Linked DNA regions of Homo sapiens: regions 1 and 2 are each linked to region 3. Evidence: fine-mapped expression QTL. A gene starts in region 3. Each other region holds a variant in brackets. All regions are shown on one strand. Distances are from middle to middle.

What was found.
Region 1: its variant is fine-mapped to the expression of BHMT in subcutaneous fat (GTEx, PIP 0.91).
Region 2: its variant is fine-mapped to the expression of BHMT in prefrontal cortex (CommonMind, PIP 0.91).

The regions. Positions count from the first base shown.
Region 1 is chr5:79,084,766-79,095,590 of GRCh38, forward strand. It overlaps BHMT2 (betaine--homocysteine S-methyltransferase 2), which reads left to right. Exons shown (of 8, transcript NM_017614.5): 8 at 3,728-5,304. The coding sequence ends at 3,809. Among named protein-coding and RNA genes, the nearest start is that of BHMT2, 20 kb to the left of the region's middle. The variant T/G (reference allele first, on the strand shown) is at 5,257.
Region 2 is chr5:79,186,127-79,196,951 of GRCh38, forward strand. All of the region lies in intron 1 of LOC124901011 (a long non-coding RNA gene), which reads right to left. Among named protein-coding and RNA genes, the nearest start is that of JMY, 45 kb to the right of the region's middle. The variant T/TA (reference allele first, on the strand shown) is at 6,200.
Region 3 is chr5:79,106,931-79,117,755 of GRCh38, forward strand. It overlaps BHMT (betaine--homocysteine S-methyltransferase), which reads left to right and starts at 4,879. Exons shown (of 8, transcript NM_001713.3): 1 at 4,879-4,988; 2 at 8,837-8,969. The coding sequence starts at 4,956. LOC124901012 (a long non-coding RNA gene) reads right to left here. Exons shown (of 2, transcript XR_007058837.1): 2 at 7,877-8,368. RefSeq lists an enhancer at 5,205-6,049.

The DNA.
Region 1 (10,825 bases), 22 kb before region 3:
TGGTAACTATTGATAACCCTTTATGAAAGCTGAGGGATTTAAATCACATAGGCTTCCCCTTTTCCCCGTTCTCCTTTTTCCAGTTTTGATTCGTTACACTTTTATTTCTTCTGTTGGATATCTTTTTAAGTTAAAATTATATATTTAACCACCTGTTTCTTAGTTCATCAATATAAGGCAGGAATCTCTTGACTCCACTCTCTGTAAAATAAGAATAGATTCCCCTCTGCTTCTTTCCACCTTCCCTCTCTCATCTACCCCTTGGTGTCTTTAAGTTTTACCATACTTTACTATCATCAAGGTTTATAACCATTTTGTTCTATTCTATAGTTATAATTGTCTTTCAAGCTTTCTCTGTAGGTTGATCCTAAAAATATAAAATCAGTGAATAACATTTACAATATTATTATAATTGTTATATTAAACAAGCAGGACTCATGAGACATAATTAGAATTCACTTTTATTTTTGTCTCCCTCTATCCCTTTAAACCTACTCAATGAATTCCTTCGTTTGTTCCTACTTGAAAATACTGACCAGCTCTAGAACTTCTCTGGGTGCTCTTAGGCAATGGAAAGTTCCATAATCACTTTATTTCACAGATAGTCTCAGTTCAGTAATTAAAAGTGTTTAGGACTGGGCACAGTGGCTCACGCCTGTAATCCCAGCACTTTGGGAGGCCGAGGCTGGTGGATCACCTGAGGTCAGCAGTTCAAGACCAGCCTGGCCAACATGGCAAAACTTCATCTCTACTAAAAATACAAAAGTTAGCCTGGCGTGGTGGCGGGAGCCTATAATCCCAACTACTCGGGAGGCTGAGGCAGGAGAATCGCTTGAATTCAGTGGGGTGGAGGTTGCAGTGAGCCAAGATTGTGCCACTTAACTCTAGCCTGGGCAATAGAGCGAAACTCCATTTCAAAATGAACAAACAAAAAAACCCCAAAAATAAAAAATAAATAAAAGTGTTCAGGTTCATGTCAAATCAAAACTCAGAGCATGTTTGAAACTTGAAGCTTCTCCCTTTGTCCAGCAACAGCCTTCCACAGACAGGAAACCAGGAGAGGCCAGCGCGCTGCTTCTCTTTCTCTGTTATGCTCCCAAACTTCCCTTCCCATCTTGCTACCATGGTTTCTGGCCTCCTCAGATTCAAAGTAAGAAGAAAGAGGATGGATAAAGGAGTAAGACTGTTGTTGCTTGCCTGGCACCCTGATAGGAAGCCGGCATCCTCTGACCCTGGCAGATCTTTGTGAGCACGCTCATGGGTCTTCAGAGGCTCCCACTGGAAACTTTTGTCTGTACTTCTCATGCCACAGGCATTTTTCTGACTGTGACTTCTGCCTCAGACAGTGGCTTTTTCAACCAGGTCACTCCAGATATACTCTGATTTGGGGGTCCTGTTGTCCTCCCCGGTAATTCTCTTGGGCCAGATTTTAGATAGTTCAGGCTGGCTCTCTCACTCTCATTAGGCTCAAAACAGCTTTCACCCTTTCTGCAGACAAGCCATGAGAGTGTGGTCTGACCCCAATTTAACAGCACCCCTTTTGCCCACAAGCAAAGTAGCTGGCCCATTGTTCTCTTGTGGTCCAGATTTTCCAGGGGACAGTCAAATGAGTCATCTGGCTGGTTCGTGGCCACCTCCTTTTAACTTCTGTGCAGTGTCTGTCTTGCAACTCCCCTTGATACCTAAAATCCATCATGCCTTGGTGTTTCCAGTCAAACTTCCAATCTAATACTCTGTTGCAGGAATAATAGAAAATTGTTGCATTTAGAAAAACGTTCACTGCAGAACAAAGTAGTATGCATGGGACCATGGATAAAGAGAAATAATCCTATTTACAAAACTTGAGCTACTTGTTGGAGAATGTTCCAAGCATCAAGGTCAAATGAATTTTCTTCTCTTGCATTCCCGTGGATATATTGTCCAAATCCATGCCATATTTCAATTTGCTTCATACTTGGTCTGACTTTCTTTGTATAGCCTTTGGTTTTCTAGGGATTTCTGATTAACTTCCTTTTCCATTGTTGAAAGAAAAATAACAGGGCTTCACTTTCCCTGAGGTCTTATAATTTCTAAATTATATTGTTTGTTACAGTAAGTCACTTTATTATTGAAGGCATTTTTCTTGGGGCCTCAAGAAAATTACTGTTCTGTTATGGATCATTGTATTTCACACACACACACTCATACTCTGTCTCTCTCTATCTTTCCATATAGATAATCTTTTGTGTATGTATGTGTGTGTGTGTGTGTATATATATATATATATATATATATATACATATGTATGTATATCTGTTGATATAATTCCATCCCCCTTCCATCTTCTAGAACTAGTCACAATCTCTGCTGTCTTCTCTCTGTTCAGTACTCTCATGTACTTCACCCATTTTGTGCTTATTTATTCATTTCAGTGGGATTTGAAAGTCTTCATTTTTGAACTGGAAAAATTTGCCTAATGCAAATTTACTTAGGTTGTAAAAGTAGGCAAGAATCACTTAGCCAAAGCTTTCTTCTAGGAGATATGGATATTTACCAGAGAAGATGTTTTGTATATGTGTCATACTTTTTAAAAAGTATTAAATATAAATATAATTAAAAGGTGAGGAAAACATACTTTGGTGATGATTAAAATAGTTTAAATAAGTGAGTAGTTTATTTAATTATCATCTGCTAGGAATCCTTAAAATTCATTAGCTATTAGAATTAAAACATTATTCTGTAGACCAAAGCAAGAAGACACCCTTTTTACCCTGACTCCCAAACCTACTGATATTCACAGAAATTTATGATTACACAATAAACACTAGATTTCTGACATCTCATCATCCAAAAATATTGATTTATTCATTGTTTTGTAAGTAAAGTGGAAAAAACAATAAAAATATATTCATCAGAAAGGGCTACGACCAGGGACCTTTGTACTCTTCTTCCTTTGTCTAACAACAAGAAACAAATATTGGTAAAGTAATTTGTATTATTTTCTTAGTTACTTTTTGGAGAATTATACTTTGACTCATTACATTAAAAACTGTTCTCGTATTCTTCTCATTACATTAAAATATTGATAGAGTTAGAAGGACTCTGTTAGAAATTTCAGAATAAATATAATTCATAAAAGTATGTGAAATGTAAGGCTGGGCATGGTGGCTTACACCTGTAATCCCAGTACTTTGGGAGGCCAAGGCAGACGGATCACTGGAGCTCAGGAGTTTGAGACTAGCCTGGGCAACATGGGGAGACCCTGTCTCTACTAAAAATACAAAAATTAGCCTGGTGTGGTGGTGCACGCCAGTAGTCCCAGCTACCTGGGGGGCTGAGGCAGGAGGATTGCTTGAATCCAGGAGGTCTAGGCTGCAGTGAGCCAAGATTGTGCCACTGCACTCCAGCCTGGGCAACAGAGCAAGACCCTGTCTCAAAATAAAAAGTATATGAAATTGAAATACGTTGTCTTTTTCTGAAAGGTGGTATGAAACCTAATGATTGTTATTGAAATGTAAGAAAGGCCCCTGGCATTAATGGATATGGACACAGTTTTCCGTCTGTATGTTAAAACAAAAGTTCTGCTTTAGCCTGATTATCCACCAAGTTTTGACTGTGTGTGTGTGTGTGTGTGTGTGTGTGTGTGTGTGTGTGGTTATATACATATACATACATATATACATATATGACATATTGGACTTATAGGTAAGACTTTTAATTAATTAATTATGTATATATTGAAACACAGGGCTCGAAGGGAGTATTGGGAGAATCTGCTGCCAGCTTCAGGCAGACCTTTCTGTCCTTCGCTGTCAAAGCCAGACTTCTAAGGAGTAGTGAAAGAAAACCCTGAAATAATCGAACAGGAAAAAGTTGCCCTCAAGCCTGACCTGGAACCGTTCCTCACCTTCATCCTCACCATGCCCTGCTATCTCCAGCTGCTGAGCAGCTGAGGTGCTGCAGCCCCTTCCCTTCCAGCCCACAAGTGTGTGCATATTGAGCTCCTGCTGTGGTTAAGCACTGCAACAGACTCTACCAGAGATGCAAAGAGAAGCGAGAGAGGCACCTTGTTCTCCAAGAACTTACTGTCCAATCATGCTGTGGTGCATTCCTTTGAAGATCATGAAGAATAGCCAAACTTGTCTTTGAGGGTGAATTTGACACTTTAAAATAATCAGAAGTCACTGAGACCCAAAGCTAGTGAATAATTCAAGTGACTAAGCTAGATACTTGAGGATGATAGAGCAACACTAAACTAAAGCAATGAGTCTGCTTTTTTTAATGATTTATACAATGACTCCAAAGGCAATCCCAAAGAAAAGATGTAAAGAATGTTTTGAGCAATGGTAGCATTATTGAAATAAATGTTTAACTATCCAAAGTGATTACTTTCAAAGATGATTTTTACTTAAAGATATTAGGTCTGGCCAGGCGAAGTGACTCACACCTGCAATCCCAGCACTTTGGGAGGCCGAGGCGGGCGGATCACCTGAGGTCAGCAGTTCAAGACCAGCCTGACCAACATGGTGAAACCCTGTCTCTACCAAAATACAAAAATTAGCCGGGCATGATGGCGGGTGCCTGTAATCCCAGCTACTCGGGAGGCTGAGGCAGGAGAATCGCTTGAACCCAGGAGGCGGAGCTTGCAGTGAGCCGAGATCAGGCCATTGCACTTCAGCCTGGGTGACAGAGTGAGACTCCATCTCAAAAAAAAAAAAAAAAGATATTAGGTCCTAGAATTTTTAAAATGTGTCTTCATAATCATAGGTAGCTAGGTTATAAACTATTTAAAGACAAGATCACGTGATAAGCTTATAATCTTCTCATAATTCCCCTTACTTAGCATTGTGTTAGACATACTAATAGGTGCACAGTGAAATACTTATTGTTGATTGTTTAAAAATAAAGTTTTAGAAAACCTTTTCAAAAGTCAGAGTTTAGGCCAGGGGCACAGGCTGACACCTATAATCCCAGCACTTTGGGAGGCCAGGGCGGGCAGATCACTTGGGTCAAGAGTTCAAGGCCAGCCTGGCCAACATGGCAAAACCCCATCTCTACTAAATAAAATACAAAAATTATCCAGGCATGGTGGTGCATGCCTGTAATCCCAGCTACTTGGAGGCTGAGGCATGAGAATTGCTTGAACCTGGGAGGCAGAGGTTGCAGTGAGCTGAGATCGCCCCACTGCAATCCAGCCTGGGAGACATAATTCAAATCTATTTTGGTCTTATATCTTCTTATGTTTGTGTTATTTCATGTGTGCCAGTTTCTCTTTTT[T/G]TCACAACAATTTATCAATTTGTGGCAATAAAAATGATTTACCTTTTATAGTGTTTGAATGTCGAAAATGTCATGAACATTCTTTGGAATAATACTAGCAAATATTTATTACTCACTATGTCGCAGTCTTTGTTCTAAAGATGATCTCATCTACATATACCCCCCAACAGGGATTCAAAATTAGATAGTGTTTAACACAGTAGTTTACAGGTAAGGAAACTGAAGTTTAAGGAGGCTAGGTAACTTGCCTGAGGTCACACAACTAGTAAATGTGAAATTAGTAAATTTGGATTTGAACCCATGGGGCTGGCTCTAGAATCCATGCCCTTAGCTACTGCACTACACGGCATCTGTCATGCACACAGCTGCTGCTTTTTGTCAAAAATCTATCCAAATTTTTCTGTCGCTGGATTCAAAGTATTTTTTATCAACTTTCCTTATTATGAATTAACTCTTCAAACCTGCCATGACTGTTTCTGTAATGTTGACAACCTGGAATTTATTTGATATAGCCACTTTACCCATAATACACAACCCCACCCTGCTGGAAATTAGAAAGTGAATCATTTACTATTATCTCAAGGCCTTTGGGGTCCTTAAGGGTGACTAATCCAAACCACCAATTAAATACCTGAATATCCTCGCCAGCATCTTCATCAGGACCATCCAGTCCCTGTTTGAATCCCTTAAATAGTAACTCACTACCTCTCGAGATCACTTACTCCTTTTTAAGAAACACTTCATTCTCTGGAAAGTTATTCCATGTATTAACTAGAAATCTATTTATTAATGACCCTCACCTGCAGACTTGGAGCACCTAAAGTGCAAATTTATAATTTCTTCCATATAACTCTTTGAAATTTAAAGATAGCTGTATGGCTTTCCTATACTTACTTGTCCTCATTTCCTTCAACTAAAAGGCATAGGCTAAGATGTGCTTTGTCAAATCTACCTGTGTGACACTGTACAGTTACTTAAGCTTTATGCCTTAATTTCCTCATCTGTAAAATGAGGGTAAAATAGAACCATCCTTATTAGGGTGCTATGAGGATTAAATGAGATAAGTTTCTTAGAAACAGTGCATGTCGTATAACAGGCATTCATTGCACATTATATAGTATAATATAATTATGTTGACTTGGTTTCCAATCCCCTCATCCTCATGGTGACTGTCTTCTGGGAACACTCTGGTACCAAAGCCTCTGCTTATTTTTAGTATGTAGTCCTGAACACCACATTCCAGGGGAGGACCGTTTACACAATATCTCCTGCTTGCTTCATAGATTTTGTGGAGAGGGCAGTGCAGGACATCATGAGAATAGCAAGAGTGAAGAAGGTACATTAGGAGGGAGAGATGTCTCCACACCGAATCCCTTCCTTGGGTCTGCACCAGCACAAACAAAGGCTTTTATCTAGTTACTGTACAGTTTAGGTGTGCTAAACTGTATAGGAGTTTGAGACCAGCCTGGGTAACATGGCAAAACTCTGTCTCTACAAAAAAATACAAAAATTAGCTGGGCATGGTGGTGCATGCCTATAGTCTCAGCTAGTCAAGAGGCTGAAGCTTGAGCCCGGGAGGTCGAAGCTGCAGTGAGCTGTGATCACACCACTGCACTCCAGCCCGGGTGACAGAGCAAGACCTTGTCTCAAAAAAAAATAATAAAATAAAATAAAATAAAAATAAAAATTAAGAAAGAAAAAAAGATAAATTTTACCATATAAAAACTTTAAATGTATGAACACTCACACAAAAATACTCTAAACAAAGGCAAAGGCAAATAGGAAAACTGTGTAACAGAGGTCAGAAACCACTCTTCCAGTAAAGGGGTCTTGAGCTGCTTTTGTTCAAACCTCCCCGAACCCAAACAGATGTTGTGAGGGGGGCTCGCCTATGTGATTGGCATTCAGAACCCCACTCCACTCCATTTTCTTGGGCTTACAGGTATTATGAGAGGACAGTGTACCCAGCTGGGACCAAGCAAAGCCTTGGGGTCAGCACTAGCATCAACACCATCAGCCATGTTGATGGTCACTGTTTCAGGTGTAGGATATGAGGTTGTGGATCAGGTGCCCCAGGAAGCACAGTGCACCTCGTGGAGATGATGTGAGGGCCAGGTCGTTGGATCTACAGGCACTGACACAGAGCTCGGACAGTTTCTGAGCATTCATATGTTATCCCGTAACATGGTACCTGCCAGCCCCACTTGACTCTTTCCTTCCCAAGAAGCAGGTCCTCTCCCTTGTTGGGCAACTTCTGGGGATTGATGGTCAGCTCCTGTGCGCCCCCACGTGCACTTTGTACTGCCTCCTCCCCACCTCCCTCAATCCCCACAACTATGTAAGGTTTTCAGAAAAACTTTCTTTTCTTCATATGTTATTATAATAGGACATCACTCCAAAAGCAATAGGAAAGTGAAGTCCTCTTTTCTCAATGGCATCCTTATTAGAGGTGGGGAAATATTTGCCTTATATCTTTCCAGTGCTGGGAAAAAAGGGTGGGGGGAACAGAATAACACAATCTGAGTACTAATATCCTGCCACACATATTTGCATACATTTGATAAGCTAAGGGATAGTTTCCTTAATCTATAAATTAGGAAATAATTACCTTAATCCATTAAATATAGAAAAAGATAAACACATTCAAAATTAGGTAAATGCACAGCAAAGTGACGAGATACCTTTTTTCACCTATCATCAACTAGGATCAATAAGTGGATAATATGTCAATGAGGGTGCAGGGGAAAAGACTTTCTCATACATATGCTTTTTGTAGAAGCATAATCTGGTACAAACTATTTGGAAAGTAATTGGTCCATATTTACAAAATTTAGAATTCACATGCCCTTGGATGAGCAATTTTACTTCTAGGAATATAATCTGCAATTATGTTCATATATATGCAAATATGTATGTCTGGAAACCACCTAAATATCCATCAATGACATATTAGTAAATGAATTATGGAACATCTACAGGATGTTAAAGCATGGCATCATTACAAAGAGTACATTATATCAATATGTGCTAAGATGGAAGGATCTCCTCCATATATTGTTAAATGAAAGTATGCTCCCATTGTGTGTACATAGAATATTTCAGGAAGGAATATCTCCCTCCTAGGGGAGAAAGACTGGTGATAGAAAGTGTGGTGTAGGAGGAAGACTTCCTTTTCTCTGATGCCCTTCTTTAGTGTCTACATTTGTTAATATGGTTTGGTATTACTTTTTCTACAAAATAAATTAGTTTTAAAACATATGTCAAGATTTCTGATTCCAAGGGGAAAAATCAGATAACATGAGTTTCCTGTTGTGATACAGAATGGGAAACGCTACATTACCAATGATGTACACCAGCCAGAAGTGCCTGGGGGAATCTAATCAAGCCTTTAGATTTCACTTCCAGTTCAGTGAAATCAAGGGATATAGGAACAAGGTAAACACCACAATCAGGTGAATCCTATATTCTACAGGCTGGCTGGCCTGGTCTTTTCCACAGGTCATTGTGTTGGAGTTGCTCATCTTTATATGACAAACCAATGCAATGCATGGTCCTGGTTGAGACAAACTGGCTATAAGAGGTCTTTTGGGAACAACTGGGCAAATTTGACTAAGGAATCAGGTTAATTTTGGCAATGCAGGAAAATGTTCTTAATTTCTGGAAATAATGCAATTTTTTAAAATGCATACTAAATGTTGATTACTATTTATAATTTATGCTAAATATTTTAGAATATAAAAAGGAGGCGTTTTTAAAAGGCAAGATTTCCACAGGTTTTGATTTTGTAGGGGGAAATTAAGGAGAAGGTAATTGTCTGCCAAAAAAAAACAGTGCAATTAAGAAAAACTGGCTTGAACTAGCTCTTTCCAGTTCTACAGCAGATGTTTGCTGTACTGGAGTTATCAAGAAGAGCAGATGGCCCTCTGATAAACCCTGCTGTGCATAGACTCAGCAATGCAGACCAGCAAATAGCTGGCATGGAAACCAACTGAAAGGGATCGAAGAGATTTGTTGAAACTAGGGGCGAGGGTCAGCTGGAAAAACAATTCCTGCTTTGCAATGATCACAGCCATGATTTGATACTTTATGCAAAATCATAAACAAAGTTAAGCAACTCACTTTGGCTGTACAGTCAGCTGCCTTGAAGGTGAGCACATATTTTATTTAATCAGTAATGAAAATCCTGAAAAGAGTTGCAGAAGGGTGCAATTTTGCCTCATATCAGTGTTGTTTTGTGAAAGGATTTTGAGAAAAGTAGATGGGGCATGCTAGTGGTGCTATTGCTGGCAGTCACGTTTCATTTATAACCTCCATTATTTATCTGGAGCACAGAGGTGGGAAGAGGAGAGAAAGAGAAATAAAAGTTGTATTTTCCATGATACAGGTGCAGATGAGCCCGCCTTTCAAAATAGTGAAGTTGGAGGAGAATCTTTTCATCTGGTGGTGGCAACTCACCTCGAGGGTTCTGTGCTTTCATAACTAATCATGTTCAACCATTTTTTAATTTATTCACTCATTCAATCACTCATTCATTCACTGTTCAAATAACATTTATTTAGTGCTTGACTATGATAGTCACTCTTATATGTTCCATAGTACCCTATATTTATCATTAATAAGTTCAATGTAGTTTTTGCTTATTTGTTTTGGTTTTTTTGTTTGTTTTTGAGACAGAGTCTCACTTTGTTGCTCAGACTGGAGTGCAGTGGCAAGATCTCAGCTCACTGCAGCCTCCGCCTCCTGGGTTCAAGTGATTCTCCTGCCTCAGCCTACTGAGTAGCTGGGACTACAGGCGCCCACCACCACATCTGGCTAATTTTTGTATTTTTCATAGAGATGGGTTTCACCATGTTGGCCAGGCTGGTCTTGAACTCCTGAGCTCAAGCGATCCACCTACCTTGGACTCCCAAAGTGTTGGGATTACAGGCATGACCCACCATGCCCGGCCAGTTCAATGTAGTTTTAATACTCCCTTGGTCATTCCTGTTTACTTGCCTATTCCCTACTCAACAGGACAGTGAAAACATCTTGTTAGTTGTTGTATTCTCAGCATCCGGCACATTATAGAACTCAAAAAAAAATTGTTGAATGAATGAATAAGTAAATGAATGTACAAACCATGCTAAGGTCAAAGGATGCAAAGATGAATAAGCCACTCTCTTATGTTGCCTTGCTGAATCCTCTTGTCAAAAGTATTTTGAAGAACACGCACATGGTGTAGGACAGACCAGCATCAGATTGTGCTCTTTTAAAGAAGCTGAAGTTGAAGAGACTGGAAGGAGGAAATGGGGGGCATCAGAAAGTGAAATGGCAGGCTGTGCAAACAGAATGGCTCAGGGGGCAACCCTGAGAAGGCCCAGACCAGAGTAGATGAGGAAGCATTTAGGACAGAGGAGAGAGTTAGGACTCAGGGTCATTAGCAATAGACAAAAGTGCACATTCAAAAATGCATCATTGGCTGGGCATGGTGGCTTATGCCTGTAATCCTAGCACTTTGGGAGGCTGAAGCATGTGGATCACTTGAGCTCAGGAGTTTGAGACCAGCTTGGGCAACATGGCAAAACCTCAT
Region 2 (10,825 bases), 79 kb after region 3:
AAAAGAAAAAGAAAAAAATTCCAGAGATACCATTGCATTTACTTTTTACAAACATTTCTTTTTTAGGCACTGGGCTGAACACTGGTTGGATGGTGCCTGCTTGGGCTGAGGTGGAGACAGGCTGGAGTTAGGAAGATAATTCTTATTTCTCCCAGTTGGGAAAGACCTAGAAAAGGATCCAGGATGTAGATGTTCCTAGGTATTCTCAATTTTGCAAAGCTGGAAGGTGTTACTTTATTAGATTCCCACAATGTGCCTTTCAGAAATGACAGTTAACAATTATTGGGTGCCAAAATACATACATGGTTTTTTATTTACATGCATCTAATACTGATTCTGTCCCTAATATAGAGCAGACACTCTACAAACACACTGAAACATTTGCAATCAGGTAAACTGTGACTTGCAAAGAGGTGGGAATAACTTTCCCAAGATTACACACTAGTACCCCTAACTCCCATTCTGCATGAGCTGTTGATGCTACTCTTCCACATATCCTCACATTCTGGAACCCTTCAAAATGACAGTAATTACTTTGGAGGACAGGTCCTCTATGATGTAATAAAAATAACTCTTGACTGAGAATTCTGTTCTTGTCTCAGCTCTACTAATTAGCCCTGTGAACGAGGACAAATGTCTTTACCTCACCACCTCTCAGTTTCCTCAACTAAAAAATGCTAACATGAAATGGAATGCTCTCAAAAGTACCTTTTGTTCCTAAAATTCAAAGGTGTAAGAAGTATATATTCCATGCTGGGTGTGCTGGCTCACGCCTGTAATCCCAGCACTTTGGGAGGCCAAGGCAGGTGGATCATCTCAGTTGAGGAGTTCAAGACCAGCCTGACCAACATGGTAAAACCTCGTCTCTACTAAAAATACAAAAATTGGGCCGGGCGCGGTGGCTCACGCCTGTAATCCCAGCACTTTGGGAGGCCGAGGCGGGCGGATCATGAGGTCAGGAGATCGAGACCATCCCGGCTAAAACGGTGAAACCCCGTCTCTACTAAAAATACAAAAAATTAGCCGGGCGTAGTGGCGGGCGCCTGTAGTCCCAGCTACTTGGGAGGCTGAGGCAGGAGAATGGCGTGAACCCGGGAGGCGGAGCTTGCAGTGAGCCGAGATCCCGCCACTGCACTCCAGCCTGGGCAACAGAGCGAGACTCCGTCTCAAAAAAAAAAAAATAAATAAATAAATAAAAAAAATAAAAATAAAAAAAATAAAATAAAAATACAAAAATTAGTTGGGTGTGGTGGCGTGTGCCTATAATCCCAGCTACTCAGGAGGCTGAGGCATAAGAATGGCTTGAACCCAGGAGGCAGAGGTTGCAGTGAACTGAGATAGTGCCACTGCTCTCCAGCCTGGGCAACAGAGCGTGACTTCGTCTAAAAAAAAAAAAAAAAAAAAAGAAGTATATATTCTAAATTAAGGAATATATATTTGAAATTATGGGACATGTCATAATTTAAATTATGTCTTAGTCTATAATGATGTATTTGAACATGAGTATATCTTAAAGGAAAACGCCAAGAGTTTTTGTCTGATAGAGGGCTTTAAAATACTGGCTTTAAAAAATAAATAAAAAATTAAACATTGGCTTTTAATAAAATGAATCAACTTAAAAATTATCTGGCTGGGTGTGGTGGTGTAGGTCAATAATCCCAAAACTTTGGGAGGCTGAGGCAGCAGAATCACTCGGCCAGGAGTTCAAGACCATGGGGCAATGTAGCAAAACCCCATCTGTATTTTTATTTTTATTTTTTTTAGACTGAATCTTGCTCTGTCACCTAGGCTGGAGTGCAGTGGCATGATCTCAGCTCACTGCAACCTCCACCTCTGGGTTGAAGCAATTCTCCTGCCTCAGCCTCCTGAGTAGCTGGGATTACAAGTGCCTGCCACCACGCCCAGCTAATTTTTGTAGTTTTAGTAGAGACGAGGTTTCACCATGTTGGCCAAGCTGGTCTCGAACTCTTGACCTCAAGTGATCCGCCCACCTCAGCCTCCCAAAGTGCTGGGATTACAGGTGTGAGCCACTGTGCCCAGCCCCCATTTTATTAAAAAAAAATTATCTCATTTCAGTCACCCTTTTCAGGAGGATGAGCCTAGCTCTGGCAATGTCTTGGATTTATGAAGTTCCTCTCTTGAGGCTGAACAGAGATAGGTACTTTCTGCAGTGGCATCAGGACACCCCTTGACATTGTAACATGAAGGTGGTGGCAATGGCCAGTGTTGAGGGGAAATGGAGAGTATCTGAAGGACAGGAGGTAGGAGTAAGACAGGTGGTAGCAGAGGAATGGGTGGGACCCACTGACAGAGTGACACCTCCAGCTGGCCAAGCTATCAGTGTGGACTTTGTGTATAGGAAACAAGCTTCATACGTATTGGTATGTAACCAGTTCCTTGATATGCCCATCTTGAGTATGCCCACTCAGCCCTTCTTCTGAGCTTATTGTCCCTCCTCCTCCTTCTCTTGCTCAAACTCTTGCCTTTACCTGTTTGAATCCCTGCCTACGCAATACCTTAAAGTTGGGAGTTCCTGCTTGGGCAGGAGTGGAGACAGACTGAAATGAGAATTCTGATTTCTTAAGGCTCCTAAGCTAGGAAATACCAAGAAAAAGGATCCAAAGTTTTGACATTTTAAAATATTCGCAGTTATGTGAAGTTTGATCCCAAAACTACAACAGATACCCACAGTATTAAAAGCTAACATTTATTGAGTGCTTACTAAGTGTTGGGCACTGTTTTAAAGAGCTCATATATGCTAACTAATTTTGTTTTCCCAACAGCCACACGCAATAGGAACTTTTTTTTTTTAAGAGTCAGGGTCTCACTCCGTTGCCCAGGCTGGAGTGGGCAGCCTACGAGTGCAGTGGCTCACTCGCAGCTCATTGCAGCCTTAAACTTTTGGGCTCAAGTGATCCTTTCTCCACCATGCCCAGCTAATTTTTAAATTTTTTTGTAGAGATGTGGCTTGAGGCCAGGAGTCCATGACCAGCCTAGGCAACACAGCAAGACCCTGTCTCTTAAAAAATAATTTAAAAATTGGCCCAGCATGGTGGTACATGCCTGCAGTCCCAGCTACTCAGGAGGCTGATGTCAGGGATCTTTAGAGCCTGCAAGATTCGAGGCTGCAGTGCTATGATGATACCACTGTACTCCAGCCTGGGTGACAGAGTGAAACTCAAAACAAACAAACAAACAAAAACCATGCTTTTTTTTGTTGTTCTTGTAGAGACAGGGTCTCGATATGTTGCCAGGGCTGGTCTCAAATTTCTGGGCTCAAGTAATCCTCCCACCTCAGCCTCCCAAAGTGCTGGGATTATAGGTGTTAGCTGCTGTGCTCGGCTGTTCTTGGCCCATACTAAGCATTTAATGTTAGCTCTTGTCATAGGTAGCGTTAGTTCTGCAAAATTAACTCACCCTGAGAGATGATTTATAAATGTTTTGCTGAGGAAACTTGAAAAATTTCTCAAGTCCAATCATAGGGTAGCAATTAAATGTCTGAGATAGTCCAGGACAGCCCAGCATGAGCTTCAGTATTCCAAGAACCAGGGCTCTCCAGTCTTTCTGTCAGTGTAATCTGAAGGCATGTCCCCTCACCCTAGAGCATCCTAGTGCTGTGTATTAAATGAAACACACACACACACACACACACACACACAATACCTTCTTCTAAGGATAAACAATAATTTCCAAAGGTAGCGTACTTCTAGTAAGGCATATCAAGAGTAAAAATAGCCCTTTTAATACAAGATGATCAGCACAGAGATACAGATCACAGTGGAGACGGCATGTGACATTACTGTTGAGCCATACTGGCATCTGTTAGTTGAATTGGTTCCAAGCTTCTAAACTCACACAGCTTATTATCTTGTACACATACCAAGCCAAAATGCTAAAATTGCAGTTTTTTCTTTCTTTAAGCAGCATTAGTTTCAGCAGCAAGACATCTGTCATCTCCTATGTTAATTTCTGCAAAGGAATGATCGCAAACATGAGGACTTACTAACTTCCTGTGCTGTACTCAGCGCCGAAGGAGTCAGGGGGTGGAGGTAAAAGATTTGTTCTCCAGGTTGTATGAACGACAACATTTTTGTGTGTCTTCAGAAAAATTTCAGCATTTTTTGCTATAATCAAACTAAACATTTACATGTGCATGGTTTTTCAGGTGTTGGTTGATATATTAACGTAATCGTAAAGCATGCCAAACAAAATCATGATAAGCCTACTGACTCAGAGGTGATTAAACCTCTCAATGAATTCACAATTATTTGTTTCAAATGCTTCATTTTCCTGATTAGAGAGCAAAAATAATTGGAGAAATTATCAAAACTAATTACCACTTGAAATGTATTGTATAGGCCTTCCAAAAATGAAACATTTATGAGTTGAGAACCATATTATAGTTAAATCAAATAAGAGATAGGAAGCTGCAAACATTACATTTCACCTTCCTGGGTAGTAATCTAAATCTAAATTTAGTGAATTTTAGATGAATTTTATTTAAATCAATTCCATCCTAAATTATGTGCATCACTGCAGTCATTTGAAATAGTAGACTGAACAGATTCAGAAAAGTACTACTCAGAGATTAGTAGAATGAATTTTTTATAAAACTGCCTTGATTCCCCTTGGAATTCTTTTTTTTTTTTTTTTTTTTCAGATGGAGTCTCGCTCTGTCACCCAGGCTGGAGTGCAGTGGCCCAATCTCGGCTCACTGCAAGCTCCGCCTCCCGGGTTCACACCATTCTCCTGCCTCAGCCTCCTGAGTAGCTGGGATTACAGGTGCCCGCCACCACACCCAGCTAATTTTTTTTTGTATTTTTAGTAGAGACGGGGTTTCACTGTGTTAGCCAGGATGGTCTCGATCTCCTGACCTCGTGATCCGCCCGCCTCGGCCTCCCAAAGTGCTGGGATTACAGGCGTAAGCCACCACGCCCGGCTCCCCTTGGAATTCTTAAAAAAGTAAAATAAAAATTTAAAAACTCATCTAGGGGCTGAGCGTGATGGCTCCTTCTCAAAAAAAAAAAAAATAATAATAATAATAATTAGCTGAGTATGGTAAATCCCAGCTACTTGGGAGGCTGAAGCAGGAGAATTGCTTGAAACCAGGAGGCAGAGGTTGCAGTGAGCTGGCCGAGATCATACCACTGCACTCCAGGCTGGGCAACAGAGGGAGACTCTGTCTCAAAAAAGAAAAAAAGAAAAAAAAGCACATTTAAAAAAACCCAGAAAAACAAAAATAGAAACTCATCTTGTTCTAATTCTAGAAAAAACATTAGGGAAGTAATTACTTGCAACATTTTACTTGGTGCTAATCAAGTTAAATTTTTAAAATGAGTGTATATAAGAAGAAATGCAGCTTATTGATCCTGAAGTAGATTAGGTGCCACTGATGCTGTTGAATTGAGAACTTTAGCCGGACATGGGAGTGGAGGACGAGTAAAAGATGCTGACTGGGCCTAGAGATCCCAAGGAGGAGGACAAGGGAGAGGAATGAGTGAATCCCCTAACAGTGAGAGAGCAATGCCAGCAGGTGGAGAAAAGAGTAAAGGCCTGAGAGCAGCTACAGCTCTGTGATGAGACTTCTTGTATGCAAGCGACTACTGCATGGCCCACAGCAGCTTGAAATAAATGGGCACCAGCTGCAGATAAGACAAGTGATAATAACAGCTCGAAATAAATGGGCAGACTCATTCACGCCAGCCTTCATCACCTAGTCGTCAGGATATTTCCTTACGGTTCTGAATATGACATTTGTTTCTAGTTTTATAACTATGAATTTATGTGAAACTCATGGGTTTTGATTTAGACAAGTAGCTTTTATGTAATTAGCGGTAATTCCATCTTTTTTTTTTTTTTTTTTTGAGACAGAGTCTAGCTGTGTCACCCAGGCTGGAGTGCAGTAGTGTGATATCGGCTCACTGCAACCTCCACCTCCTGGGTTCAAGCAATTCTCCTGCCTCAGCCTCCTGAGTAGCTGGGACTACAGGTGCCCACCACCATGCTTGGCTAAATTTTTTTTTTTTTTTTGTATTTTTAGTAGAGACGGGAGTTTCACCAGGTTGGCCAGGCTGGTCTTGAACTCCTGACCTCAGGTGATCTGCCCGCTTGGCCTCCCAAAGTGCTAGGATTACAGGCGTGAGCCACTGCTCCCAGCCATGATTCCATCTTAGTAAAGTTCTGTGATCTGCAAAAAAAC[T/TA]AAAAAAAAAAAAAAAAAAAAGAAAAATGCAAAAGATACATTACTTTTTTTTTTTTTTTGACATGGAGTTTCGCTCTTGTTGTCCAGCTTGGAGTGCAATGGCGCAATATCAGCTCACCGCAACCTCTGCCTCCCGGGTAGCTGGGATTACAGGCATGCACCACCATGCCTGGCTAATTTTGCATTTTTGGTAGAGACGGGGTTTCTCCAAGTTGGTCAGGCTGGTCTCGAACTCCCGACCTCAGGTGATCCTCCCGCCTTGGCCTCCCAAAGTGCTGGGATTACAGGCATGAACCACCACGCCTGGCCCAGAAGATATACTTCTAAGAAGTTAAATGAATTATTAATTAGCATTATGAAATTTCATCTTGTTTCCATCTTAGCCTATATTTCAAATTCATATATTTGTCTTAAAATATGCTTCAGTTTTTTATCCTAAGAAGCCATATCATGTAAGTCAATAATGAATCCATATGAAATAGTTACATGAAGTTCTAACTCAGAAAACACTCAGAGAAATTATTTTGGCATAAAGAAGCCACTCTTTGGAGGCAACAGAAATTCAGATTCATACTCTGCCACTGTTACAGAGTATGGATATTTATAAAATTTGGGTAATATGTCTTTTTATAATGTCATTTTTAAAATTATCAGCACTGCCGGACGCGGTGGCTCATGCCTGTAATCCCAGCACTTTGGGAGGCTGAGGCAGGTGGATCACGAGGTCAGGAGATCGAGACCATCCTGGCTAACACAGTGAAACCCCGTCTCTACTGAAAATACAAAAACTTAGCCAGGCGGGCCGGGTGCGGTGGCTTACGCCTGTAATCCCAGCACTTTGGGAGACTGAGACGGGCGGATCACAAGGTCAGGAGATCGAGACCATCCTGGCTAATACGTGAAACCCCGTCTCTACTAAAAATACAAAAAATTAGCAGGGCACGGTGGCGGGCGCCTGTAGTCCCAGTTACTCCGGAGGCTGAGGCAGGAGAATAGCGTGAACCCGGGAGGCGGAGCTTGCAGTGAGCCGAGATCGCGCCACTGCACTCCAGCCTGGGCGATAGAGCGAGACTCCGTCTCAAAAAACAAAAAAAAAACAAAAAAACTTAGCCAGGCGTGGTGGCAGGTGCCTGTAGTCCCAGCTACTTGGGAGGCTGAGGCAGGAGAATGGCGTGAACCCGGGAGACGGAGCTTGCAGTGAGCCGATATCGTGCCACTGCACTCCAGCCTGGGCGACAGAGCGAGACTCTGTCTCAAAAAATAAATAAATAAATAAATAAATAAAATTATCAGCACCAGAATCGTATTTCATTGAATATATATCCATTTTCTTGCCCACCTGTGAGCCTGATCAGTTTCTGACGGCAGAGACAGTCTTTTGTTTGTTCAGGGTGTGGTCTTATGTCAGATAGAATAACAGAGCAAAACAGGATGCACGTGTGTGACAAAAACAGGGGAATGCTAGCAATTTTATGAGTTTTATACTTGGTGGTGCTTCATCTTAATTTCCTGTGATTTGATGTCTTAATCTTTAATTGCTCCATTTTGAAATCAGCCACCAGCTGCAGCTAATACAGGTCACAGTAACCTGATGAGTCAGCCTCACACTCCTGAGGCCATTCTGCACATTTGCCAACAACATTCAGAGCAGACGCGACCAAAGTGTCATAACAAGCAGACTGGTCAGTTGACAAAGTTAGTTTAGAGCTGTAGCTTTCTCAAAGAAAGTGTAGACCAGCAGCATCAGCATCACCTGGGAATGTGTTAGTAATGCAATTATTGAGCCCCATACCAGACCTAGGGCATCAGAAACTCTGAAGGTGGGGACCAACAACTTAAGTTTTAACAAGCCATGCAGGTGATCCTCATGTACATTAGGTTTGAGAATCACTGGATTAGGTCAGGGGTCCCCAGCCCTCAGTACTGGTCCATGGCCTGTTAGGAACCGGGCTGCACAGCAGGAGGTGAGCCGAAGGCTAGTGAGCATTACTACCCTAGCTCCACCTCCTATCAGAACAGCAGCGGCATTAGATTCTCATAGGAGCACAGACCCTACTTTGAACTGCACATGTGAGGGATCTAGGTTGCATACTCCTTATGAGAATCTAATGCCTGATGATCTGAAGTGGAACAGTTTCATCCTGAAACCAACCCCTGCCCACTGCCCTCCCAGTCCATGGAAAAACTGTCTTCCATGAAACCAGTCCCTGGTGCCAAAAAGTTTGGGGACCGCTGGATTAGGTGCTTCTCTAATGTCATGATTTTATAGAAATTTGTGAAACATTGATTTTGTGACAAAGCTTCAAAGGCTACTTGAATAAGTAGAGTGATTAAGGAAGTGTTAATAAGACAAACCTGGACAAATTACTTAACTTCAGTTTCCTCGGTAAAGGGAGATTACTAATAGTTCTGATCTCATAGGATCTGTTGTGAGGATTCAACAAGTTAATACACATGAAATGCTCACAAACAGCTCTGGGTGTCCTAAGTATTCAATAAATGGTCCTAGGGAGGGAATTTTATTATCCTCAGTTTTCAAATGAAGGCCCAGAAGTACTAGGAAGGTAAATAATTTACCCAAGTAAATAAAAATTAGAATCCACACAAATTGCAGGCTTTTCTCCACTCTACTATACTTCCCAGTGAGGGTGGGGAGGAGTATAAACTGGAAGAAATATTCGACAAACTAGTGATAGGTTCTCCAGAGTTACTGTCCACAATTTAAGGGGGGTAAAACAGGAACTGAAGTGCTTTTTCATTTTTCTCAAACCTTAGGGATCGTTGATGCAATAGCAGAAGGAAAACATTCTTACCTCCTAAAATTATTGTCTTGCTGTCAGCAGAGTTTGTGGTCACCTGTGCTGGCACACAGACAGCAGCCAAGGGGCCCTACTTCCATCCTAATGGATCCAGCCCTCTGGAGGGTCCCCATTCTGTTACAAATGGTTCTTTATTTCTAGGTGGAAGAGGCTATAAATTCTGCAAAACTGTTGTAATTCATTTTCTGCTAGACCAGTTAGCAAGTGTTTTCTAAATACATTATCATTGTGGGTGGTTTTATTGTTATTATCATATTACTAATGTTTAGCAATTCTGTTTCTTCATTCTTGCTCTACTGTTTTTTGAGACGTGGCGCGATCTCGGCTCACTGCAACCTCCAACTCCCTGGTTCAAACGATTCTCCTGCCTCAGCCTCCTGAGTAGCTGGGATTACAGGCATGTACCACCATGCCCAGCTACTTTTTGTATTTTCAGTAGAGACGGGGTTTCACCATATTGGCCAGGCTGGTCTCGAACTCCTGACCTCGTGATCTGCCTGCCTCGGCCTCCCAAAGTGCTGGGATTACAGGTGTAAGCCACCGCGCCTGGCCTCTAGTTTGTTTTCTAGGAGAAGTAAGATAGTAGAAATATCTAATATTCTCTTCCTTCCTCCTCAATCTGACCAAATTTTGCAAAATCTAAAGTCTAAAAAGTGCCAGTTGGGTGAATGTTAATGACAATAGGGAAGTATTGCTAATCCTTCAGGGCATGATCAATGGCACATCTAGTTTATCTGATACCTAGAATTAATCATTTTTAAATCCCTACTTTTTTCATACGACAAAATTACTTTCAGTAACAATCATGAAATCAAATTAATAATAACCAGAAAAATACAGTAAAATTTAATTTCTTTTTTACTTTAAAAATATTTTTTAGAAACAGGGTCTTGCTCTGTTACCCAGGCTGGAATGCAATTGTGAGATCATAGTTCACTGCAACCTTGAACTCCTATGCTCAAGAGATCTCCCTGCTTCAGCCTCCAGGCCTGAAATTTTATTTTATTGAACTTCATATATATATAAAATTTCATATGTATAAAACATGCCAGGAGGCCAGCAGTGGTGGTTTATGCCTATAATCCCACTTTGAGAGGCCAAGGAGGGAGGATTGCTTGAGGTCAGGAGTTTGAGACCAGCCTGGATAACATAGCAAGACCTCATCTCTACCAAAAATTAAAAAAAAAAAAAAAAACCAGGCGACACACGATGGCTCACACCTGTAATCCTAGCACTTTGGGATGAAAAGGTCAGGAGTTTGAGACCAGCCTGGCCAACACAGTGAAATCCCATCTCTACTAAAACTACAAAAGTTAGCCGGGCATGGTGGCACATGCCTGTAGTCCCAGCTACTCAGGAGGCTGAGGCGGGAGCCTGAGGCAGGATAATCGCTTGAATCCAGGAGGCGGAGGTTGTGGTGAGCCAAGATCGCACCACTGCACTCTAGCCTGGACAACAGAGTGAGACTCCGTCTCAAAAAAAAAAAACAACAAAAAAACAAATGCAATACAATTAAAAAAAAAATTACACACATACACGAAATTATAAAGCATTAATACTATTTACTGTAATCGCATTAATTGTTAAGGTGAAAATTATACCTACATATTGGTTGTTTATAGTAATGAATAATGATGTTAGCATTTCATTGCAATTAAATAAGAAGAATTCCAGCTAATATAAAGATATTATTTATGTTAACCAGGATAGTCTATTTATCAACTAAAACTAGTTAGCTTTCTGTGCAGGAGTTCCAGCCTCTCTAAAGTTATGTGTTCTGGTATTTGTCCCCAAACACTTCATGAGA
Region 3 (10,825 bases):
CAGGTGAGTGGGAATGTCCATGAGTCAGATGAGGTTATAAAAAGTTTGGGGAGCTTTTGAGAAAAACAATCTACTGAAAAGAAAGCATAGAGTAACTCTAAAGAGTGTGATCTCTGGCTTCATTCGGCCCAGCTGACGTCCTCTCTCAGCTCTGTGCTTACTATTGACATGATCTTGGGAAAGTTCTCATCTGGCCTCCATGGGCCTCAGCACTGTCATCAGTAAAATCGGGCTGGTCAAATCCCTACCTCACAGGGCTATTGTAAGGATTACTAATGCTTACAAAGCACTTAGCACAGCTAACTCCACATAGGAAGTGCTCATAAAGTTACAGTTATCTGCTTAAAAAAAAAAGCCACAAAAGGGCATGTGACAGGCTAATCATCCTGTTAGAAAGCATTTGAGGAAAAGCAGAAGAGAGGAAATTTCAGAGCTAGAAAGGGAACTCAGGATGCAATTACCATGCTGAGAGGATAGTTCTGGGAAACTGGAGGTGTCCAGAATGAACAAGAATATCAGCTGGAGGACTCCTCTGTGGAAAGCCAGGAGATGCTGGAGACGCTGGATATGCTGGCTAATCTGCAAGCCCTGAGGGAAGCATTTTCACCTGTGGTGGAAGGAAGCTCTGAGATAACAAGCAAAAACAAAAAGCTCAGCTGTTTCTCTAAGAACTAGGAAATTAAAGGCAAAAACTCAAGCATGGGCAGCAGTTGGAGGCACCAGCAGGAGCCACAGGCACGGTCAGAGCCGGGCTCAGGAAGGGCTCGCTGATGGCAAGGGAAAGGCAATGAAAGCACCCTGGGAAGAGGCTGTTTTGTGCTCTAAGTTTATGCCAAACCAAATGCAAAGACAAATCTGAAAAGTCACCCAGCTTCAACTTCTAATTTTCCATATGAAGAAACCAAGACCCTTTAAAGAGGAGTAATTGTGCAGTGGTTGGCTATGCATGAACGTGTTGGGACAAATGCATGTATGTGGCCACTGCAATAGACAGGGTGCTGGACAGGACAGGTAAACTGAGGAAAACCTGTGCACCTGCAGAAGAGAGTTTTAGAAGGAAAATCCACCTCATCAACCTTTTAGTATCGTCATCCTGGCAAGAAAAAATAACGGGGGTTAGTGGCAGTAGGAAAATGTAAGGCAAATGAAATCTTCGGTTTGGGGGCTACTTGGGGGAACATGTATTCCGTAACCCCAAATATACCTTCTATTTATAGCAGAAGTTGAAAGCCCAAATGCCTTTAAGGTAAGGTAAATATGTGAACCAGAAGAGTGCAGGGCAGCTGGGTGTGGTACAGACCAGCAAATGGGAAGGGTGGAAGCGCCACATAAAGGAATTCACATTCAATTTTTTAAAAACACTGGCCTTGCCAAAGGAAACGCAGAAGCTGGCTCCATTTCCACATCAGCAGTTTGCAAACACTGTTCTGTACAGTGTTAACATGTAAAACCACCATTAAACACAGTGTTAAAACATCATTAAACATCATACTAAAATATAAAACATCATTAAACACAGTGTTAAAGTATCTTCAATGGTTTAAGGCTAAATGAAACATATTTAGTCTAAAAAGGCCTGTGAAAAGTCAGTTTCATTTTAAAAGAGATCCCAGTTGAGTGGGAAATGAAAAGTCCTGACATTTTTCCATCTACATATTGGTAAAAGGAACATTTTAGCACTTATATGAGATGGTTTCTATCTCTTCCTTGAAAAAAAAAAAAAAGGAGATGATATCCTTTACTTCCAGCACCAAGCATAGGGTTTAAAACATTGTATTAATGGTACCTAAATGTTTATTGAGTGAATAAATAGGATTTCAAATAGAACAAAGCACTGGTCAGAGACAGAACAATAACCGAGTATCTTTTGAGGTTGTAAAATGAAGGGGGTGGATCGCCAGCTCTAAGTCTCCTCTTCTTCTTTGGGATTTATTTTTAACCCCCAACATCTTTGTACACAGCCATGGACTTCAGTCTTATGACCTCCCTCATCTGGTTGACTCCAGTAGAGATCAGAGAACATAGGCAGCCTCCCAAGGACAGTTTATTGCAGAACTCACTTCCTGCCAGGTGCAGTGGCTCACGCCTGTAATCCCAGCACTTTGGAAGGCCGAGGCGGATGGATCACCTGGGGTCAGGAGTTCAAGACCAGCCTCTCCAACATGGTGAAACCCCGTCTCTACCAAAAAATACAAGTTAGCCGGGTGTGGTGGCGCCAGCCTGTAATCCCAGCTACTCGGGATGCTGAGGCAGGAGAATCACTTGAACCCAGAAGGCAGAGGTTGCAGTGAGCTGAGATTGCACCACTGCACTCCAGCCTGGGCGACAGAGTGAGACTCTATCTCAAAAAAACAAACAAACAAGCAAAAAACCTCACTTCCTAAGTGGTATCCAAGCAGACTTAGTTCTCTGGGAATGGGGCAAAGAAACTTCAGGGAGCATGCTGATGATCCATCTAACTCCCTAACTTCGTGGTTCTTGAGAACAAAGAGGGGACACCCACCTCACAGAGTTGTGTGGGGTAAATAATGTTGTGTAAGTAAAAGGCTTAGTGCCTTTTACATACATGGTGGATATTATCATCTATTATGGAAATAAGTGAATAATTTTTTAAATGGACCTAATTGGGGGTGGGGGCATGGGATAGTTAGGACAACAAATTGAGAGGCCCAGAAAAAACAAAAATATTTTGACAGCACCTATAAATCATTCTGGAAAAGCTGGGAGTCGATAATTTTTTTAAAAAACGAAAATTCCCTACGTTCGAGTACAAATCCTTTTATATACATCTATACACTTAGGTATGCATAAAATTCCTCTGGAAGAACGGTTAACAGGCAATAGTGGTTACCTCCAGGGAGGGGACTTGATCTGCAACAGCAGCTGGGGAAAGGCTTCTAAATTTTTTTTGCCATGTTTGTTCTTGGAGAAATAAAGATTAAAAAAGTAAAATTTTTGCCATGTGTCTATATTACCTATTAAAAATTCATAATTCACTTCTAAATTTAATGCTACTAGTTTAAAATTTCTCCCAAGTTTTGCCACATTTTGAGGAAACTGAAATTGGGAACGTCGGCTTTCAGCCTTTATTGAGTGTTAGAGTGCTTATACCGCCTCCTAGTGCCAGATACCCACGACTGCGGCTGCTCCCTGCAGCCACCGCGGGGCTCACTCTAGACCTGTTCATCTCACCAGTGCTCACCAGGTGAATACCTTAACTAGTTAACGCATTAACTAACTAAACTGTTACCTATTCGGATACTCCAATGCCTTCAAGGTGTTTTTTTTTTTTAATCTAGGTACTGTGAAGAATGACTTTACCTCATGCCTCATTCTTGCTGACCCCAGATCACAGTTGGGGGTGGAGGAGCCAATGAAATAATAGATCACTTGAATAACAGTATATCCTTTCACCTTTTCATTTCTTTTTCCATTTTAAACTTGACATACTTAGAAGCAAAAGGACATTTTTACTTTCTCAGTTGTATTTCAAACACATGTCACTTTAGCCGTTAAATTTGTATTAATTCATCAGGTGTTGCAGTAACTTTCTTCTCTGCATGTGTTGAAATGGAGGTTGTTTGTCCACATACAGAATTTTTTTACATGCTTTTATTTGGGTAAAATTTTCTGAACTGTGTTTCAGATATTTCATTGTTCTGTAGGCTATTTACTGTCATGCTGTACATTTTTTTTTCTTTTGAGACAGAGTTTCACTCTTTTTGCCCAGGCTGGAGTGCAATGGCACAATCTCGGCTCACTGCAACCTCTGCCCCCAGGGTTCAAGCGATTCTCCTGCCTCAGCCTCCCGAGTAGCTGGGATTACAGGCGCCTGCCACCATGCCCGGCTAATTTTTGTATTTTTAGCAGAGACGGGGGTTTCACCATGTTGGCCAGGCTGGTCTCGAACTCCTGACTTCAGGTGATCCACCCGCCTCACCCTCCCAAAGTGCTAGGATTACTGGCATGAGCCACCGTGCAGGCCATGCTGTACATTTTTTAAAGTAATGTTTTTATTATTTTAAAATCAATGTATTCTCATTATAAAAATATTTTGGAAAATACAGTGAAACATGAAGAATAAAATAAAACAAGCCTTAATTCCGCCATCAATAGGTAACTACTGTTAACATCTCTATTCCCTCCAGTTCTTCTAATGTCTATGTTTTTATATCGTTTTCATGCTGAATTTTGAAGTCTTCAAAGTACATTTCTGCTTCCATTTATAAATGTTAAAAGTCTGTCCTTGTTAAATATTACAAACATATTCTTATTAGAAACTACTGTGTTATTAGAAACTGCAAGGCATGTTTGGGTATAGGGGTAGAAGGTCATTTTGAACATACCCGCCAATTCAGGGTTAGTATTGGACTCCTCTACTAAAGCCGCATTTGTGTCCCGTTATACTGGATGTATATCACACAGGAGATCACACTCCAGGCTGAAGATCTTCCAGGACTTCATCCCCTGATTCCATAATCTTGACGCCTTGGCCTTTGACAAATATCTGAGCATCGAATGGACTTCTCAGAGGCCTCTCTGGCAGCCTAAGTGGGCCATGGTGCATGATCCCAGGTGAGCGAGAGGACGGTCAGGGTCGGGGCAAAAGTGCAAGAGGCAAAAGGGACGCTAGGCAGGTTTGAAATCTGAGCGAGTGGCAACCTCGCTTTTTCTTATCTTACTTTTCGGTGGTTCCACCCATTTGGGTGAACAATCTGGATTACCTCCTTGGCAGGCCAGGTTCCCAACAGGAGGCGGGCCTGATGAAGGGCTGGTGGGCGTGTTCCCGCCCAAGGTCCGTGTTGGCCCGCGCGGTGGCTGGGAGGCCCTCCCCACGCCCAACTGCGGGTATAAAGAGGCAGGCTGCGGACTCGGAGCAGCTCGGGGCTGCGCAGCGGGAAGGCTCGCCTAGTCGGTCCGCATCCGTGTCGACCACCTGTCTGGACACCACGAAGATGCCACCCGTTGGGGGCAAAAAGGCCAAGAAGGTGAGTCTCCAGGGGACCCGAGGGCGCTCTCCTTCCCCTCCCACCTGCTCTGTATCCCAGCCTCTGGGAGCGCAGAGGGGCCCTCGGACCCTGCCTGGTACCCATCATCCTCCTACTCCCTCCCCTCCCTCAGCCTCAGACCAGAATGTGCTTCCAGAACTTCTCCAGCAGGACCCCAAGGCGCCTCTGAGCCTCCCCACTCCTGCCCCACGTTCAGAGCGCGCCCCCAGAGCGCCTCTGTCCCCTCCAGCCCCAGCCCAGCTTGGACCAGAGTGCGCCCCAGATCTATGTGATCCTTGCCTCTCAGACCCAAAGGCACCCTCTGAGCCCTCCCTGACGGCTGGGTGTCCCCAGAACTCCGAGCCTTCCAATATCTTCTGAATCTGGCACCCCAAGACCAGAAAACTCCCTAGAGATACTGCTCCTAGCCCCGCAGGCGCGATATCCCGTCCCCACGGAGCCCCTCCGCATCTGTGTCCGAGGCCGCCGCGAGCGCCCTCTGCACCCGGCGCGCCCAGAACAGGGAGGAGTGCACGGCGCTGGCTCCGACATTTCCCGCCTGGATCTGCACCGCGGGTGTCGGGGCCGCCTCCCCGCCGGGTTCTCGCTGCACCCAAGGCCCAGGCGCTGGTTGGGTGATTGCAGATTTTCACAGGCAATTTGATGTCCGTGATGACAGAAAAATGTCATCCGAAATGTCAGCCTCGAAAACATGGTTTAAGAAAAAATGGGCAGAGTGGCTGTAAGATACTGAGGAAGGGCTGTTGATGAAATTGTAAAACCCAATTCCAGCTCCAGATGAACAAGTCCATCTCTTGGCTATCCCAGTGGCTTGTTGGGAGGGGTATTTTCAGTCCAGACGGTAGGCCTTCCTCTAATTTGGGGAACGGATGGATAGATGGACTGACTGCCGTGGAATGAGACTGGACAGGTGGGAAGAGAGAGAGAAGGATGGAGGGAGGAGAGAATAAACTTGACCTTTTGGTCAAATGCCCAGTCCCAGGCCTGGCACGACAGAGGCCCCCGGAAAATGGTAGGGAGGCAGATGGGGCCAGGCCAACTGTATCCTCTGGGCTGTAAGGACAGTGAGAAAGGTCCAGCTCTCATCCCAGTGCCTGCCCTGCTGGAGAACCAGCTGAGGTGTGCCCAGTTTCTAAAGGGATGGCCTCCCAAATCAAAAAGACCTCTACACAAGGAAGAAGGTCAATTCGGTTACAGATTCTAAATGCAGCATCGTGGATGCATGTTGATGGCATGAGTGGGTGTTGAGATGGCAAAGGACTATGGACTATCACCAGTCAAAGGAGGGTGAGAATTTCGCCAGTCCCTAAATGTACTAAATGAATAGTCCACAGAGACTGGGAAGGATGATTCCTATAGATATAGATATTTTTTGTTTGTCCCCATTCTCATAGCCACGTAAGTCTAACTTATTCCCCAAACTCAAACTCAGAAAATCTAACATTTTAAAGAATTATCTTTGTAGAATTATCTAAGCAACAGATGAATGTAAGATGGAAAAAACAGTTTCCTAGTAACTTGTTTCCGTGCATATGTCAGTGTTAAAACAATATATGGACAATAACATGTCTACACATTTGAGTTTAAAATTAAAATAAATGTTACAAAGTTTGCACATGTTCATTATAAACAATGAGGGAAAGCACAAAGAACAGTGCCTGTTAAATTCTGGTGTATATTCTGCTAGTTTGTTGTTGAGGCAAATATGCACTTCTTAGACAAAAATGGGCTGATATTACATATACTGTTTTGTAATACTTTTTCACAAAATGGTATATTTTTTTCATAGCACATTCCACCTTTTAAAAAGTCTGTTTAGCTTGGGAACAGAAAATCCTGAAGTCTAGATAATTTTAAAATGCAATAGAATGTAAGAGATCATATTTCCAGAGGTAACCACTCAACAAGTGCATGAGCCACATAGTAATTGAATCGCCACTACCCACCCTGCCACCCAGCATCAGATCCTTAGCTATGCTGCACATTAAAATGCTGTGGTACTAAAATTTGAAAACACACACGTTCAATGGGAGCTGCTAACTGCCCAAATGTCATGAATTATTTTATCCAAATAAAAGTTAGTAGCAAGTCATATCTCATTTAAGTGACCCTTGTTATGTTTTTTATGTAACTGTGCTGGCAGTAGTATATATATATATATATTTATATATATGTATACATATATATATTATTGTTGTTGTTAATTAGGTCATAATCAAAGTTGCAGTTTTCAGATGTGACATTTAGATACATTGCAATCATGACAAATATTTGGATTTCAAAATGACGTGTGAGCCATTTATATTTTTGTTGTGCTTTGTTATCTTATGGGCTCCCATAAGATAACAAGGCTTCAACACTATGGCTTGAAAATGTTTTGATCTGAAAGGTATATTAGGGAACACACAGCATAATCCTACCACTTTGCTTCTGTCTGGTGAAATGTCAATTGTTTCCTCTCTCTGAGCACCAGCTGTCCAAATGGCATGGGAAGGGGCAGTGGAGGGGAAGAGAATGAAAATGAGGGAGGTTCTAAGAAGGTGGCAAGGAATTGGGATGCAAAATCCTGTGACTGCCTCTCACAGATTTCTGGAATCTTGTTATTATGTCAGCTTTTGTTTTATCCACTGTTATTGGTAGTAAGTGGAACACACTGGGTAAATACGTCCCAAGTTATTCCTTTACACTATACAGTTTTTTTCAGGGCTGTCCCACCACCCCCAATCCCATTTGAAATCAAATATAGATGTTATTTAAGCATAAAAGAGTCAGGAAGCCCTATGCTCCCCATCTGGAAAACCATGTATAAATTACTCAGGGACTCTGGGTCTTAATTTCTCATTTGTGAAATGAGAGAGAGATCTCAATTGAATTGAGTACTATTTATTTTTAAAGTCTATGATTCTTTGAAATTACAAAAAATCTATTAAACTAGAGAATTACTTTGTAATTCACAAAACCCTTTCAAAATACTTAATTCCAAAGTTATCCATAGAACAACACCAGGGTGATTACTGCACAGTATTGTAAATGGAATAAGTATGGAGATTGGGCTGAAAAATCATTCAACAAATACTTTAGTTGTCTCTTCCTTGTTCTCATCATAGAGTACAGCATGTGCACACTCATAACCTGGACTGTATAGCATAGCTACTGTTGTGGAAACTGAATTTTAACACCAAAGATAGAAGTCTTTGAGTGATTTGGCCACCTTTTCAGTCTTAAAATAAAATGGCTTAATAGCATTGCTGGGCACTGTGGCACGAGCCTGTAGTTTTGGCTGCTGGGGAGGGTGAGACTGGAGGATCTTCTGAGCCCAGGAGTTCAAGTTCCTCTGGGCACATAGTGAGATGCTGTCTCTAAGAAAAAAAAAAAAAAATAGCATTCTATGCCATTTCAACTTCTTTAACAATTTTTTAACCCTCTCTTTAGTTTGTTGATAGAGTAAGAAGACTAGTATTTACCATTTTAAGAATCTGTGCTTAAGTGCAGATTTGAGGCTTTACAACAAAATCTTTTCATTTAATCCCTCAGCAGACAGTTCTTCAAACACACCTCCCACGGTGTTCTTCAAATACTCTTTAACGTGTTAAGAAAGACCCCCCCACCCACAGCACATACAAAGGAATACACAAATGTTTATTTTATGAGCATTCTGGTTGTTTGTCTTATAGATAGCCATAAATGTATATATAAAATATACATTTTTCTCTGAAAATTCTAAAATAACCACACATCTCCAAGAATATGTTAGCAAAAGTAATAAAAATAGAAAATTATCTTAAACACTCAAGTAACTCCTTTTCCTCCCTCATCTGTAATTTTAGGGCATCCTAGAACGTTTAAATGCTGGAGAGATTGTGATTGGAGATGGAGGGTTTGTCTTTGCACTGGAGAAGAGGGGCTACGTAAAGGCAGGACCCTGGACTCCTGAAGCTGCTGTGGAGCACCCAGAAGCAGGTTGGTGCAGAGCTCTATTGTAAGTTCTCATAAAGGAGCCGGGTGTGGAGGCTCATGCCTGTAATCCCAGCAACTCAGGAGGCTGAGGTGGGAAGACCACTTGAGCCCAGGAGTTCAAGACCAGCCTGGGCACATAGGGAGACCTAGTCTCTCAGAAGTTTTTTAAAAATTAGCTGGACATGGTGGTGCACTCCTGTAGTCCCAGCTACTTGGGAGGCTGAGGCAGGAGGATCGCTTGAGCTATTTTATGCAAATGATTTTGTGTATCTGCAGCGCTTTTGTAATTTAGACTGAGTGGTAGCTAGAATTGATGGAAACCCCTGAAGAGTCTTCCTGCAAGCTGGACTTCACCTGCAACATTTTTATATATCTCATGCCTGGGCCTGACTTTTTCATGTTCTGGGCAAAAAGAAAGGAGTGGTTATGCTACAGGCCCACAATCCCCTGTCCAAACCACATTTTGGGGTCAAACATATCTTGGAATCCAGGAATCTGGGGATGTTAGAAAGTTAATACAGTACAAATGTAGCATATTATGTAACACTCCCAATGGGCCCTGAAGCAGCTCCCATTGAAACACATTAATACATTTTTGCATCAAAATACATGACTACCCTTACTAATTGAAACATGTTTATCAATACCTTCATGTTGGTTCAGGTCATATTTTGCCCCCAAATGGTTTTGCTGCAAACTTACCCAACTGAAGAAATACTTCAGAATTTTATTTGACCTTTTAGAGTTTGCTGTGGAATTTTAAAAACTTGCATTTCTCAAGCTAAATCTATAAGGCTAATCTCCAACTATGCCATGTACATATATAATCATGTATCAATGTACATTTAGCTTCTATGATTTTAAAATAAGTAATATAATGAGGAGTTAAGGCCATAAAATGAAGGTAATCAATTAGTATAAGCGACGTCATTGAGTAAAAGGGACTAGCCCTATTGTATTATGGGTTAGAGTAGGAACCTTGTGGTCAGGAAAAAGTAGGTGAAAGGATACTCAAATTACCAGCCTCATTCTCTTGCTAAAGTTTATGCCCAAAGTTATGGTTCTTGCACCCAGTGGAAGCAGCTTTAATTCAGCAATGAATTCAGGTTATCGGGGTCTGGAAGAGTTTGAGGAATCTGCCTTTCTGATAATTGCCCCCAGGTGACTCTAAGATGGATCATACTTAGAGAATCACTGCAGTTTTAGAAGCATGATGAATAATCAAGAGTGAGGAGTTGTCTTCAACTGTTTGGGATCACTGCCCTGTGGAAAAATCTGATAAAATTTTATAGACCTTCTGCACTGTAAAATGTATTTATACATAACAATTTGCACACATTTCCAGGGTTTTTTTCATGAAACCTCTGGAACTCCACCCAAGGACCATGTGAGTGGACTTCGTAGTTATAAACCATTTATTCCTAGTGTCCAGAAACCTAGTATATAGGCCTTTCAGCCCTCTCCAGCCACAGCAGCTCTGGGTTTATCTGATTGATATATGGAACTCCCTATATTTTTCATTGGTTCTGTTATTAATTAAAACAAGTTTGAAGCCCGCTAATTTAGGGATGCTTTTGAGGTCCCACTGAGAACTTTCTATGATTTAAAAAATCATGGAAAATCTTTGGCTACAAGCTTACAAATGCATTTTCTAAAATTTAAAAGCTTTTTTCACTTGTGTATTCATCTCTTTAAAAACAAAAACCAAGGTTTCTATGTTCCAGTTACTCTACTCTACTAGTCGTCTGGGAGACAAGAGATGAGTATAGACTCATCTCCAGCGTTAGCGCTGAGAGCTAAGAACTTCAGTGTCCTAGTAATTTCCTAGCCTGTCATATAGTTGCTCCTGGACCTTTGGA